Homo sapiens: one gene and its partner. The protein of the gene in region 1 interacts with the protein of each later gene in a pairwise test. Each region holds a gene or a part of one and is shown on either strand. Other genes may lie near its edges.

Region 1 (3,500 bases):
CCGTCCTCTCTTGAGTGACTGATGGAGGGCTGTGACATGGTTGCTCCGGTACCTGCTGGCAGAGGGGCAGGCAGCCCACCTAACCTGGTCCTTACGCCATCAGACCATAGCAGCCACCAAACCCAGCTACATGGTGACATTCAGATTGGTGGCCCTTTTTCCTGTCAGCTACCCGGGCACATCTAGCAGTCTTGAGGATTGGCAGGTCTGGTGGGAAGAAGAATTCATTCTTCTTCTTCTTTTTTTGACACAATGTCTCACTCTGTTGCCCAGGCTGGAATGCAGAGGCAGGATCATGGCTCACTGCAGCCTTGACCTCCCAGGCTCAAGTGATCCTCCCACCTCAGTCTCCCTAGTAGCTACTAGAATGTGTGTATTTTTGACAGAGATGGGGTTTCTGAGCCGTGGGCTTCTTTCTCCTTCCGGCAGTGTTGTTCCCAGTGCTGGGACACCAGTGTGGGAGCTTTGTGGTCAGCTTGCGGGGAGGGTGTTATGTGCAATATTTAGAACTAAGGTCCTCCCCAGCCTGTTACCCCAAAGGGCTCCCTGATTGGTGAAGTGACTGCTGCCTTTCTTCATTGTGGCTGAAACCCTTGTGCGTGAACAGTAAAGTGAGGGGTCAGTCTGCGAGCGGATTCAAGAATCTGAAGAGGGAAGCCAGGTGCAGTGGCGTGCGCCTGTAATCTCAGCTACTTGGGAGGCTGAGCAGGGAGGATGGCTTGAGCCCAGGAGTTTGGGGCCAGCCTGGGCCACATAGTAAGACCCCATCTCAAAAAAACAAGAATCTGAAGAGAAGTTTAAGCAGGCTTCTCTCTAGGCACAGCCAAAGGATTCTGCTAAGGGTGAGAAGACCCAATCACGGATCTAAGAAGAACCCCGTTGCATCTGTTAGAAGTATTCTTGAGCTGGCTGGGCGGGGTGGGCCTACTGCTTCTGGAAAGTTCCTTCTCTTTCAGGACAGGTTCAGAATATAGTAGTGCAGAATATAGTTCTGGGGCCAGTAACAAATTTGACCAATGAAAAATCTTGGCTGGGTGCAGTGGTTTCTGCCTGTAATCCCAACACCTTGGGAGGCTGAGGCAGGTGGATTGCTTGCAGCCAGGTGTTTGAGACCAGCCTGGGCAACGTGGCAAAACTCCATATCTACAGAAAATACAAAAGTTAGCCAGGTGTGGCGGTATGTGCCTGCAGTCCCAGCTACCCTGGAGGCTGAGATGGGAGGATCACCTGAGCTGTACTCAAGTCTGGCGACAGTGAGACCCTTTCTAAAAAAAAAGAAGAAAAAATTCTCCAGCTTGTCTTGTGTTTAGTTTCCCTTCTCTTTCCTCATAGTTGCTTCCCAAAGGCCTCGTGCTCCTTCTCAGGGCATTTTCCCGTTTCCCTCTGACCACTTCTCTTGAAGCCCCTAGAGTGTTCCTGGGTCTTAAGCTTTGAGTTGTGTTTGAGGACTGTACCCGAGTTCCATATGTGGACTCTTCCGTGTTGACCCTGTAGCTCCAGGAGTCAGGCAGACGGTCTTGGACCTACGATTTGTCAACTTTGGCGACAGGCATTTGCTAGAAGCCCCCTGCTCTCCTCGTGTGGAGGCAGCACGTGCGAGGCGGTGAGCTGCAGCTCCCAGTCAGCTGCGCGTTTTCCACCGAGGGTATTTTCCCTTTACCATGGGTTTATCAGGATGTAGCAGCTGCTGCTGCTGGGATTCCTACCACCCACTGTTGCTGTGTGTCCTCAGCACGGCCACTGCCATTCTCACTCTGCCTCCTTTAGGTTAGGCCTTGGCAGTGTGGGAAACACATCAGCCGAGAGTTGGTGCCCAGCATGCACTCGAGGCCACCCTCATCCAGGCCCCGTCTGCCTTTCCGAGCTCACCTTCCACAGTCTTCCCCCGCTCCACTCTCCGCCCTCTGATGGCCCATGCTGTCCCACGGCTGCTCCCTCTGTCTGCCCCACCCCCTCCAGCACTCCCTGTGCTTGGCTGCCCAGCTCGGGCTGCCTCCTCCAGGCGGCTGCCCCTATCTGCTGTTGGGAGGAGATTCCTCTGCCCTTTGAGTGTCCTCGACACTTTGTGGGTCCATGAGAATCCTTATTTTTCTGCTGTGTATTTTCTTTCCCTTTGTTCTTTGTCCTCCTGGACTAGAGCTCTCTGAGGTCTTGGCAAGCCTCACAGCAACTAGAACAGCCCCTAAGCGTGGTGTGCCTTGGTGACAGCACTGTGCCTTGGGAAGCTTATGGCAGAATGGCCACCCGTGGAGCACGGAGCCGCCCAACTGTCATCGCTGTCCTGAAGGGTGAGGTGGGCCTGGGCTCTGCTGCCAGGACCCAGCTGAGGCTTTCTAGTTCTCTCTCCTTCTACCGTGGCAACCGTCTCCTCATCCCCCTGCCATCTCCACCGCCGCCAGCAGTCTTCAGAAGCATCGGTCTTCCCGGGCCACTCTCTGTTGGGCCTCAGGGTGGTTGACTCATTGCTCTGTAGGATGCAGTCGAAACTGCTAGAGTTGACTGTGAGACCAGGAACTGGCAGCCGCGAGGGCTGTCTGTCCTTCCCTCCAGGAGCAGTGCCGTCGCCCTCCACCTACTGCGCTTATTCTTGCCCATCCATCGGTTTCAGCTTACGCGTCCCCTCCTCAGGGATGCCTTCCCTGGTCCCCGCACCCGACTCCACTTCCTCCCTCCGTGCTCTGCTGGCACTGGCGCTTCTCCTCTGCAGCCCTCCCTGCAGGTGTGGTTGTGTCTGTAGAATTGTTTTCTGCCTGGCTGGCTGCCTGGTTCACAGCCCGGTGCCTGGCACAGAGTCCCCACTCCTTGTTAACGGAGGACTGGACCCCACCGTGAGTTGTTGCTGTGCTCTGAGCCAGAGGAAGGGAGGCGTGGAAGCTTCCCTGGCCCTCCAGGGTCTGCTGGTGCTCTCGGCTTTGCGGTCGTTTCTCTTTATTGATCAGGGTTTTCTGTGCCCTGAAGCCACTGAGTCAGGTGTCATATAGAGCATATCAAGAACTTGAAGCCAGGCCAGGCACATGGGCTCACACCCGTAATCCCAGCACTTTGGGAGGCCAAGGTGGGAGAATCTCTTGAGGTCAGGACTTCAAGACCAACCTTTGTAACATAGTGAGACCCCATCTCTACAAAAAATAATTAGCCAGGCATGGTGGCACACAACTGTAGTCCTAGCTGCTCCGGAGGGTGAGGTGGGAGGGTCTCTTGAGCTCGGGAGTTGGAGGCTGCATTGAGCTATGATCACACCACTGCACTCCAGAAAAAATAAAAATGTAAAAGAACTTGAAGCCAGGACTTGGGGCGGGTGCTCTGAGTGCAAAAGACAGAAGATGCTGTTATCCAAGGGGTAGAAGCAGATTTGGGGACCCTGGACTTCTCTCTGCACTCAGCAGGATGTGTGACTTGTGAAGCCTGGTGTGAGACTGGCCCTCTGCCCTGGGGGCCTTTCTGCCAGGTCCCTGGCCCGCTGACTCACGCCCCCTTCCTTACCCAGGAGAGTCGCGGTT
Region 2 (3,500 bases), on another chromosome or scaffold:
GCACATTAGGCTGGTAACCAATCCAGAGCTCTTTCCCCAAAGTAATCTGCTGCCACCAGCCAATCTGGAGATCTTACCTTCATAGAAAAACACAAAATAAAATCTGCCCCAGCACTGATCACTAAGGAAGTGTTCCTTCTTTAGAGAAGTACTGTACATCTTTACCCTTTATTTCCTTTCTCTAAGTTAACTGCCTACCCACAAAAAGATAACACATTAGTACCACAGTGACTTCATTTTTATAGTTTAAAATGTAGAACTCTAGCAAAGGAGTTTAAAAAGTTAAAAATATTGCATTTAGCAGTTGCTTTGTATCCCACTTGTTTACAACCCTCCAAAGAACCTTCGTCAGTTAGAAATTATATCATCACCACCACCATCCAGGCTATTTTTGTCTTGAGCAAGCACATCACCACTGGCTTCACCTGTTTGCCTGGTTAAGCTCTGAAATTAACTCAACTCCAATTTTCTGTGTCCTATTTCTAGCACTTGTTATAAACAAGGATCACAGTTTATTAATCTAGTCTTTTAGCATTAAAAAAAAAATCGGGGCTCGGCGCTGTGGCTCATGCCCATAATGCCAGTACTTCGGGAGGCCGAGGTGGGAGGATCACTTGAGCCCAGGAGTTTGCGACCAGCCTGGGAAACATGGCGAGAACTTGTCTCTACAAAAAAAAAAAAAAAAAAAAAAAAAAAAAGTAAAAAATTTAGCAGGGCATGGTGGCACACAACTGTGGTCCCAGCTACTCGGACTGCTGAGGTGGGAGGATTACCTGAGCCTGGGAAGTCAAGGATGCAGTAAGCCATGTCCGTGATACTGCACTCCAACCCTTTCTCAAAAAAAAATCAAGAAACCAAACAAGAACAACAACAACAACAACAACAACAAAAAACATAAGGAAACAATGGCTTTCAGGCTCCTTATGAGACTGAGTTCCCATTTTTGTTTCAGACTTGTGTAATTATTCATTTAGCTAATGAAGTTTGGGCCAACCATATTGCCTCTGTTATTCCTAAGCACAAGTTACCTCAGGCAGGGAGCCTCTTCCTTTCCATAACACCCAGCTTAATGCCAATTGTTCATGGTATCCCCACTGTCTGAAATGCCCCTATAGTCCCCATCCATCCAGATTCTATGTATCTTCCAGAGCTGGATTCAAATCCCATCTCTGGCTGAGTGCGATGGCTCACGCCTGTAATCCCAGCACTTTGGGAGGCCGAGGCGGGCAGATCACGAGGTCAGGAGATCAAGACCATCTTGGCTAACATGGTGAAACCCTGCCTCTACTGAAAAATACAACAAAAATTAGCTGGGCATGGTGGTGTGCGCCTGTAGTCCCAGCTACTCGGGAGGCTGAGGCAGGAGAATGGCATGAACCCGGGAGGTGGAGCTTGTAGTGAGCCAAGATCGCGCCACTGCACTCCAGCCTGGGCGACAGAGCGAGACTCCGTTTCAAAAAAAAAAAAACAACAACAAAAAAAAACAAACAGAAAAACAAATCCCATCTCTTCAGTCAGTCTTCTTGGTTCTCATGGCTCTCCACTGAGCTCTCCCTCTTCTAGAATTCTTTTTCTTTTTAAGACAGGGTCTAGCTCTGTCACCCAGACTGGAGTGCAATATTGTGATCATGGCTCACTGCAGTTTTGACCTCCTGGGCTCAAGCAATCCTCCTGCCTTAGCCTTCTGCATACCTGGGACTACACTTGTGTGCCACCATGCCTGGCTATTGAAAAAAAAAATTTATTTTTTTAAGTAGAGACAAGGTCTTGCTATGTTGTCCAGGCTGGTCTCCGGCTCCTGGGCTCAAGCAATCCTCCTGTCTTGGCCTCCCAAAGTGCTGGGATTACAGGCATGAGCCACTGTGCCCAGCCTAGAATTAACAATTATCTGCCATCATTCATTCTGCACATAATCTTTATTTATTTTTTGAGACAGAGTCTCGCTCTGTCACCCAGACTGGAGTGCAGTGGCGCGATCTCAGCTCACTGCAACCTCCGCATCCCAGGTTCAACCAATTCTACTGCCTCAGCTTCCTGAGTAGCTGGGATTATAGGTGTGCACCACCACACCCGACTAATTTTTGTATTTTTAGTAGAGACAGGGTTTCACCATGTTGGCCAGGCTGTTCTCAAATTCCTGGCGTTAAGCAATCTGCCTGCCCCGGCCTCCCAAAGTGCTGGGGTTACAGGCATGAGCCACCATGCCCGACCATCATTGTGCACATCATCTTATCTGAAATGTTTACAACTTGTCACTTGACTGAGCATCTGGAAGGTGGGAACTATAATACTTGCTTTCTTATAAATTCCCTCAGTGTCAAGCAATTCAGAAAGTGGACACATAACACTGATGTTATGCATGAGGACAATCTTTCCTGTTTTTCTTTTTCTTTTCTGAGACATAGTCTCAGTCTGTCACCCATGCTGGAGTGCAGGGTCTCGAACAATCTCTGCCTCCTGGGTTCAGGCAATTCTCGAGCCTCAGCCTCCCAAGTAGCTGGGATTACAGGTAGACGCCAACACTCCTGGCTAATTTTTGTATTTTTTGTAGAGACGGGGTTTTGCCATGTTGGCCAGGATGGTCTCGAACTCATGACCTCCAGTGATCCACCCACCTTGGCCTCCCAAAGTACTGGGATTGCAGGCCTGAGGCACCATGCCCGGCCAAATCTTCTTTTTAAATCCATGGAGTTCTAAGAACATTCCCTCTTCCAGAAGCTCTGGCTCCACAGCTCCAGGCCAGCGATCTCCTTGAAATACTGCCACCACAGGCTGCTAAGCTGGCTTGTGATAGAGAAATGGGGCTGGGTCTATCTGTAAACATGAAACCAGGAAGAGCATCTGACATATAAACTCCTGGATGAGTGAAGAATACTGTTTATAATATATCGCTTTCTAAGTAGAAATACTTTAACCGTCAGAATTAGATTTACCAGAGAAGCCACAGACATTTTTTTCAAATCTAAGGCTGTATTTTCCTATAAGAATAATAAATAGAAATACAACTACTTAAAGAAATCAAACCGGCTGGGCATGGTGGCTCTTGCCTGTAATCCCAGCACTTTGGGAGGCTGAGGGGGTTGGGGGGGGGAGGGGCAGATGACTTGAGGTCAGGAGTTTGAGACCAGCCTGGCCAACATGGTGAAACCCCGTCTCTACTAAAAAATATAAAACAATTAGCCGGGTGTGGTGGTGTGCGCCTGTAGTCCCAGCTACTCGGGAGGCTCAGGCACCAGAATCACTTGTACCCGAGAGGTGGAGGTTGCAGTGAGCTGAGATCATGCCACTGCACTCCAGCCTGGGTGACAGAGTGAAACTCCATCTCAAAAAAAAAAAAAAAAAAAAATCAAACCATCTAGCTAGACCCAGGTAAGCCACTTGACATAGTGATAAAAAGCTAAACAAATCACTAGCAACTCAAGTTAATACAGGTTCTTCACGTTCTTCCCGTCACTGTAACATGTTATATGGTCAGAGTCTCAGATTAATGGTCCTGGTTT

Evidence for each region. The genes of interacting proteins can lie anywhere in the genome.
Region 2: the proteins of NTMT1 (region 1) and GLYR1 interact in binary tests that used the Homo sapiens proteins (3 or more experiments, as listed by UniProt).

The regions. Positions count from the first base shown.
Region 1 is NC_000009.12:129,629,163-129,632,662, forward strand, and holds part of NTMT1 (N-terminal Xaa-Pro-Lys N-methyltransferase 1), read left to right. Parts: intron 1-3,487; 5' UTR 3,488-3,500. UniProt on the Homo sapiens protein: Distributive alpha-N-methyltransferase that methylates the N-terminus of target proteins containing the N-terminal motif [Ala/Gly/Pro/Ser]-Pro-Lys when the initiator Met is cleaved.
Region 2 is NC_000016.10:4,840,789-4,844,288, forward strand, and holds part of GLYR1 (cytokine-like nuclear factor N-PAC), read right to left. Parts: intron 2,815-3,500; exon of another isoform or gene 2,616-2,814; intron 603-2,615; exon of another isoform or gene 1-602. UniProt on the Homo sapiens protein: Cytokine-like nuclear factor with chromatin gene reader activity involved in chromatin modification and regulation of gene expression. Acts as a nucleosome-destabilizing factor that is recruited to genes during transcriptional activation.